2 linked regions of the Homo sapiens genome follow. The protein of the gene in region 1 purifies or fractionates together with the protein of each later gene. This does not show direct contact. Each region holds a gene or a part of one and is shown on either strand. Other genes may lie near its edges. The genes, in order: DNHD1 and GCKR.

The links.
Region 2: the proteins of DNHD1 (region 1) and GCKR purify together in Homo sapiens (affinity purification with mass spectrometry; one large-scale study listed by BioGRID and IntAct). This does not show direct contact.

The regions. Positions count from the first base shown.
Region 1 is NC_000011.10:6,542,264-6,546,078, forward strand, and holds part of DNHD1 (dynein heavy chain domain-containing protein 1), read left to right. Parts: intron 1-1,857; coding exon 1,858-1,983; intron 1,984-2,310; coding exon 2,311-2,408; intron 2,409-2,528; coding exon 2,529-3,815. UniProt on the Homo sapiens protein: Essential for the normal assembly and function of sperm flagella axonemes.
Region 2 is NC_000002.12:27,520,737-27,524,397, reverse strand, and holds the end of GCKR (glucokinase regulatory protein), read right to left. Parts: intron 1,939-3,661; coding exon 1,804-1,938; intron 1,130-1,803; coding exon 959-1,129; 3' UTR 714-958; downstream 1-713. UniProt on the Homo sapiens protein: Regulates glucokinase (GCK) by forming an inactive complex with this enzyme. Acts by promoting GCK recruitment to the nucleus, possibly to provide a reserve of GCK that can be quickly released in the cytoplasm after a meal.

The sequences.
Region 1 (3,815 bases):
ACACTTTGCCAGTCTGCTCCTACTTGATCTCTACCACTTTTCTGCCTCATCCTTAGATTTCTCTGCTACTAAAAGTAATAAATAAAAATTCGTAATACAAAGTAAAGGCTCTGGATAATGTGGGCCTTGGGATGCCTGTGGGCATAATTTCAGATACCAGCCTGGGTCCTACCAGTCTTTCCTGAGCTCACAGCCCTTCCTCCACCTTTGCTCCTTTTCAGTTTTCCCTTCTCTCTCTAAGCTAGCATTTGCACCAAGCACTTGTGTGGTTGAGGTTTCTCCCTATGGGTTCTCTCCTTTCTCTGTACCAGGCTTTCTTTTCCTGTTAACTCCGGGCATGTTAACCAAGGACCACATCTTTGTAGTGGCCACACACCATGAAGCTGGTGACTTCGTTCACCCAAATAAACCCCAAATGATGGACTTGTTATATATTTAATTCTTACCTCAAGAAGACAGGTTGTTACAGGATTGGGCACACCTACAAATTATTAATCTCCCCTTTAGATTCTTAACCAAATGAGGACAAGGATATATATGAAAATGAAAGTATACTATCAGAACCATCACCCCCAAGGAAGTTTGTGCTTTTTATGTATCATGTTGGCAGACACAGCTTGGATCTAGGTCAAGTGAGACTTCGTGCTACCTCGTCATAATCTTCCCCCAATTAATTGAGAACTTGAGGTCTGTGTGGATATGCAGAGAAAAGCTGAAGTACAGTTACACAGGTAGCTGTGTAGAGGACTGTGGCCTGCCTCATATCCCATAGAGCATAAAAGATGGGCCTCTTTGCCTCCTCACATGGGGAAGAGTAAGGGAAGAAGATAGACAGAGGGGCTGAAAGCATTAGTCCAGTGCTGTTTTCTCTAGAGAGTGGAGTAGAAGTTGTGTGACTCTGAGAGCAGGATAATGAGTTTTCTTCCCACCAGGGATGTTTGGAGAGTCCTACATGTGTCTGAATAAACCTCCTTTCTTGATTCTTCTCATTTTTACCCCAATTAGTGTCCCTACCTCATTTCCAGCCCTAGTCTTACCAAGCACTTGTGGCATGAAGGGATAACTCTTTAAGCAGCACCAGGGAGCCAAGCACTAAGACTATGAGAGAAAAGTTTGTTCTCAGCTTCTCTACCAAGACCCGTTTTAAGACAGAATGGGCATTCTTGCTATAGAAATATTACGTAGGGTCCTGGAGCCATTCAGCCCTCTTCCCGGGCTAGAGGCTCTAGTTCTTACAAAGCACTTCCATGGAGTTACGTGGATACTCATAGCAGCTAGTCAGGGAAATTAGCTGGCCTGGAGTCTGCCCACAGTGCCTTGGGAAAGGAGGAGCTTCTTCTCTCACCATTTTGAGACCCCAGTGCTTTACTGGCTCTACATATTGGCTGATGGAATCCTTAAAGGCAGAAAGGGCAGCTGGGCATGGTGGCTTACACCTGTAATCCTAGCACTTTGGGAGGCTGAGGTGGGTGGATCACCTGAGGTTGGGAGTTCGAGACCAGCCTGATGAACATGGTGAAACCCCGTCTCTACTAAACATACAAAAAATTAGCCGGACATGGTGGCACACACCTGTAATCCCAGCTACTCAGGAGGCTGAGGCAGGTGAATTGCTTGAACCCAGGAAGCATAGTACAGTGAGCTGAGATCGTGCCATTGCACTCTAGCCTGGGCAACAAAGCGAGACTCTGTCTCAAAAAAAAAAAAAAAAAAAAAAAAAAAGGGAAAGAAAAAGACAGAAAGGGCATCAGGGTCTCTGTAACTGCCTCTCCTGGAAGGTTCCCCTGGTCTCCTCTTCTCTCCCCCAGCCCCGGCCCTTGCCTCATCTGACTGCCAGTTCAGCTTTTTCTGTCTTAGATTACAGCAACCTGCAGGATTCCATCCAGGAAAGTCTTCAGGTGTTGTCCAAGATCTTGGCCATCGAAAAGTCAGGAGATTTAAACAAAATAGCTTTGGAGTGGGTGGCCATCATGCATGGCCTGGGTAAGTGCAGGCCTCTAGCCAGGCTGATGGGTGAGACCTGAGGCAGGATGTCCCAGAGGGATGGGGGTGAGAGGTGGAGGTTGGGTGGGAGAAGATATGAAGAACACAGTGAGGACCTCCTTCAGGGCTGTTTCTTGGGATGAAGAGATCAGGTTTTTATTCACAGTGAAAGTTTTTTCTCCCTCAAGCAAGTTCCCTGAGTCCTGCTGGGCAGAGTATTTTGCTTGGGCTGGTGGGGTACCTGAGAGGTCAGGAGCAGGGTGGACTCCCCTGCAGAAGGTAGAACCCTAGTGTTTCCCACCAGCATTCCTCTGGCTGCTTACACAGGTGCCCTGCTGGAGGTGTGGCTGACTTTCCAGCAGAAGTGGATTTTTCTGAATAAAGTTCTGCATGAGATGAAGATCCAGTTTCCTAATGCTGACCTGGTAGGGAAGGGGGTTGAGGCAGAGAGGGCAAGAAGGGTTCCTGAATAGCAGGGCTCAGCGTGGGAAAGGGGAGCTGCCACTTCATATTGGCCCTCACTTTTATCCTCTCCCTCACCACAGAACTCTCGTTTCAAGGTCATGGATGACCAGTATCGAACCCTGATGCGCATCTCTGTAGCTGACCCCATGGTTCTGTCACTTGTAGTGCCCAGTGCCGAGAGGAGCCCTTACTTCCAAGGCCAGCAGCTGCAACAACTGCTGCAAGCAGGATCGGTGGAGCTGGAGGGCATCATCATGAGTCTGGAGAGCGTGCTCTATGGGGTGTGTGCTCACTTCCCCCGCCTCTTCTTCCTTAGTGACAGTGAGCTGGTAGCCCTGCTGGCTGCTCGACTGGAATCATGCGAAGCCCAGCTATGGGTACGACGCTGCTTTCCTCATGTGCATGCTGTGAGCTTCAGGTCTTGCCCAACTGGTGAGAAAAACACAGATGACTGGGAGTCAAGCCCAAACACACAGACTCAGGTGGAGGCACTTGCAGTGCTAGGGGCAGGTGGGGAGGAGGTGAAGCTGCAGGGTCCCCTTCCTCTGCATCCAGATCTCCCTAAGTGGCTGGCCTCTCTGGAGAAGTGTCTGCGCTTGGCACTGGTGCACATGCTGCAGGGCTGTGTGGCTGCTCGCCTTGCTCGAGGCCCATCTCTAGGTGAGGCCCTCAAGCAACTGCCCAAGCAAAACAAGTTGTACCTGCAACTGTATGTCCAGCACTGGATCGACTTAGTCCAGGCCTTCCCATGGCAGTGTGTGCTGGTGGCAGAGGAGGTGGTATGGCGGGCCGAGATGGAGGAGGCTCTGCTTGAGTGGGGTACCCTGGCCATGGTCTCCATGCATATGCGCAAGCTTGAGGTACTGGTGAATTTTATGCGGGCCCAGAGGGCTTCCCAAGGTGGGCAGTCCCTGCCTTCTGTCCGCCAGACCAGCCTTCTCAGTGCCCTGCTGGTCATGGCAGTGACTCACCGGGATATAGCACAGCTGCTGGAACAGCACCAGGTCAGTGATCTCACAGACTTTCACTGGGTCCGCCAACTCAAGTATCACTTGGGTTCACCTCACATAATCCCCAAAAGCCCCCTACAGAGTCTTAAGACTATTGCATCTTCTGAACCCTCTCTGTCACCAGCGGCATGCTGGATAGATGTGCTAGGCAGGTCCTTCCTGTACAATTACGAGTATCTGGGACCTAGACTAGGGCCTCTACCCAGCCTACTGCCTGAACGGCCAGCCCTGGTACTATTATTGGCCCTAGAGGAGGTGGCCTGTGGGACCGTACTGGGTCCTAATGGTGTGGGCAAGAGAGCTATAGTGAACAGCCTGGCACAGGCCCTGGGCCGCCAGCTGGTGATGCTACCCTGC
Region 2 (3,661 bases), on another chromosome or scaffold:
CTGGCTCCTTTGCAGTCACCCTCCTGCCTAAAAGTTCCAGGGACCTTTCCAGAGAGTTTCATCCCCAGAGGAATGTTCCTGAGTATCTATTACCTGGATATTTCTCAGGCACAAGGAGGAACCAGCTCTCTACTGTCAGGGCCATATATCACAGGCCCTAAAGAGCTGGCATGAATCTAGGATGAACAAGGGTGTCTTTGATTTGTCAAAACATGGGGTAGCTGATGTCTAAAATGTACAGCCCGGGGTTTCTAGTGTTTGTTGGGTCCCACCACCAAGGGCTTTCAGCACCTCCAGAGTTCCTTATGTTCCTCTTACAAACACGGGGCAGGGGATGTGACCCTCATTTCATGGTCTAATGCGTGGATGTAGCAGTCATTCTAGATCTTGTCATGTCTGATTAAGACTGCCCTTTTTCTGGGTTTCCTATGTTAGGTACACAACTTCTTCCCTCTTCCCCTGGAATTATCTAAAAGTTCCCACCTCTCATTGTGTGTCTGTGTGGGATTGGAGTGTGTGTGCACGCATGCACACGTGGCTGCATGTTGGTAATGAAAATATAGGGATGCCAGTATAAGGCTTGTGTTAGGGACCAATGAAATGGAGTTGGGGACAGAATTAAAGAAACAAATCTGCTGTTAAGACCAACCCATGCCACCCATCCTATCCCACCTCTGATCTACTGTTTGATTTACTGACTTTGAAAGGTTAACTTTCCAAAATAAGACATTTCATTTTATTTCTGAAATCAGAATAAGTCGGTGAGAGTAGAAACCACTAGGTCGAGAGCAAGAACTCTCCCCCAAAGTGGAGAGAATATTTCTCCCTACCCTGGGCTGCGGATGCCCTGGAAACGGGGCTTCTTCCTCCCACATGTTCTGCTGGCACAAGTCCCCTTGGGCGGGCTGGGCTGAAGTGGGCAGGGTTGGGCCCCTTTCACCCACCCAGAAACATGGGTTCACTGAACGTCAGGCTCTAGGATCTCGAGGGGGTCCGCAGTGCGCTTCTGACCTGGCCCAGCAAGAGCACTCCTGACAGCCTCACAGACAGAAGGAGCTGCAGCCAGGTGTGCCTGAGCCTCAGTGATCGAGCACCGGAATAGGAGGCTCAGCAAGGCGATGGGTATCACCTGTGGGGAAGAGGCAGTGGGCACTGAAGCCTGAGGGAATGAGGTCATCAGAGAAAGAACCCCGGAGGAAGGTCGGGCGCAGTGGCTCACGCCTGTAATCCCAGCACTTTGGGAGGCCGAGGTGGGCAGATCACTTAAGTTCAGGAGTTTGAGACAAGCCTGGCCAATATGGCGAAACCCCATCTCTACTAAAAATACAAAAATTAGCCAGGCATTGGTGGCTGGCACCTGTAATCCCAGCTATTTGGGAGGCTGAAGCAAGAGAATCTCTTGAACCCGGGGGCAGAGGTTGCAGTGAGCCGAGATCGCGCCACTGCACTCCAGCAGCCTGGGTGACAGAGCAAGACTCTCTCTCAAAAAAAAAAAAAAAACAGAACCCTGGAGGAGTTAAAGCATTTGATACAGGAATCAGGAGCCACTAGGTTAGATGCAAATAGGATGTTATTAAGATTAGAAGGTGGTAACAAGGTGGATTAAGAGCAGAAAGAAACCTTCACTTTGACCAGGAAAACTCCTATTCATCCTTCAAAACCCAGTCCAAAGACCCCATGAATGTGGAGGTCCTTGTGAGCAGAGTGCCACTGAGCTTTGTAAACCCAGTGCCGAACAAACTTCCTGACACACTGAAAGTACTCAAAAAGTATTTGTTGAATGACCAGCAGTGGGCAGGATACCTGTTCCTTCTCATGTGCAACCTGGACATGGCAGGAGATGGGAGCAGCCCGAATATCATCTGACAGTGGCTGGGGAAAGTGGATCGCTCGGAGGAGGCTCTCGATGCATCGAGCCTTGGACTGTCCAGAGAACCGCTAAGGAAGAAGTGGTAAGATCAGTGTCAGGCTAAAGGCCAGAGGAACTAAGAATGGAGTCAAGGGAGAAGAATAAACTATGAGAGTGAGAGGCTGGGATCCCGAGGCCTGGCTATAGAGGCTGTAGATGATTTGTCCATGTTGGCAATCCTAAATTGTAATTCCCAGGTGTAAAGAAAAACTAGGTTAAAGGGGTTGGTGGTGGGCTTGACTGGCTGGGTTAAACTGGAGGATTAATGGCAAATTGCTCAAATTTGCATGTGTGTCCCACCAATCCTGTAGGTTGGTAATCTGGACTCCCTCTCTCTAGTTTCCTCTGTAACCAAATCCATCTTGCACACTAATGTAAGACTGTTCATCTGCAAACACTGCTTCCATTTTGTCACTACCCTCCTCTCTGTCTAGCTCAGCATTGTCCAGTAGAAATATAATGCAAGGCTGGGCACAGTGGGTCACACCTGTAATCCCAGCACTTTGGGAGGTCAAAACAGGAGGATTACTTGAGCCCAGGAGTTCGAGACCAGCCTAGGCAACACAGCAAGACCCCATCTCTACAAAAAATAAAACAAATTAGCTGGGCATGGTGGCACCTGCCTATCGTCCCAGCTACTCAGGAGGCTGAGGTGGGAGGATTGCCTGAGCTCAGGAGTTTGAGGCTGTAGTGAGCCGGATGGTGCCAATGCACTGCCCTCCAGCCTGGGTAACAGCGTGAGACCCTGTCTCTAAAAAAAATAAAAATAAAGAAAAAAATATAATGCAAACCACATATGTAAGTTTAAGTTTTCAGTAGCTGCATTAAAAAAAGAAATAGGTGAAATTGGCCAGGCACAGCAGCTCACACCTGTAATCCCAGCACTTTGAGAGGCTGAGGCAGGTGGATCACAAGGTCAGGAGTTGGAGACCAGCCTGGCCAATATGGTGAAATCCCGTCTCTACTAAAAATACAAAAAAAAAAAAAAAAATTAGCTGGGTGTGGTGGCGCATGCCTGTAATCCCAGCTACTCAGGAGGCTGAGGCAGGAGGATCACTTGAACCCAGGAGGTGGAGGTTGCAGTGAGCCGAGATCATGCCACTGCACTCCAGCCTGGGTGACAGAGTGAGACTCCATCTCAAAAAAAAAAAAAATGTGATTTCACCTATTTCTCCTGACCTTGTGATCTGCCCGCTTTGGCCTCCCAAAGTGCTGGGATTACAGGTGTAAGCCACCACACCTGGCCTGAAATCAATTTTAATAATATATTTTATTTAACCCAATATATAACCCAATGTAAACAATATTAAACATTATTAGTCAGATATTTTGCAATATTTTTCTATATTCGGATTTTGTATTTTGAAATCCAGTGTGTATTTTGCAACTAGAGCACACCTCAATTTGTTTTTTTGTGGCTTTTTTTAATTTTAATTTTATTTTTTGAGAGATAGTCTCACTCTGTCACCTAGGCTGGAGTGCAGTGGCACTATCTTGGCTCACTGAAACCTCCACCTCCCAGATTCAAGCTATTCTCCTGCCTCAGCCTCCCTAGTAGACAGGACTATAGGCCTGTGCCAACATGCCCGGCTATTTTTTTATTTTTTTTATTTTTAGTAGAGACGGGGTTTCACCATGTTGGCCAGGCTGGTCTCGAACTCCTGACCTCAAGTGATCTGCCTGCTTCGGCCTCCCAGAATGCTGGGATTACAGGCGTGAGCCACCGTGCCCAGCCAGCCCACCTCAATTTGG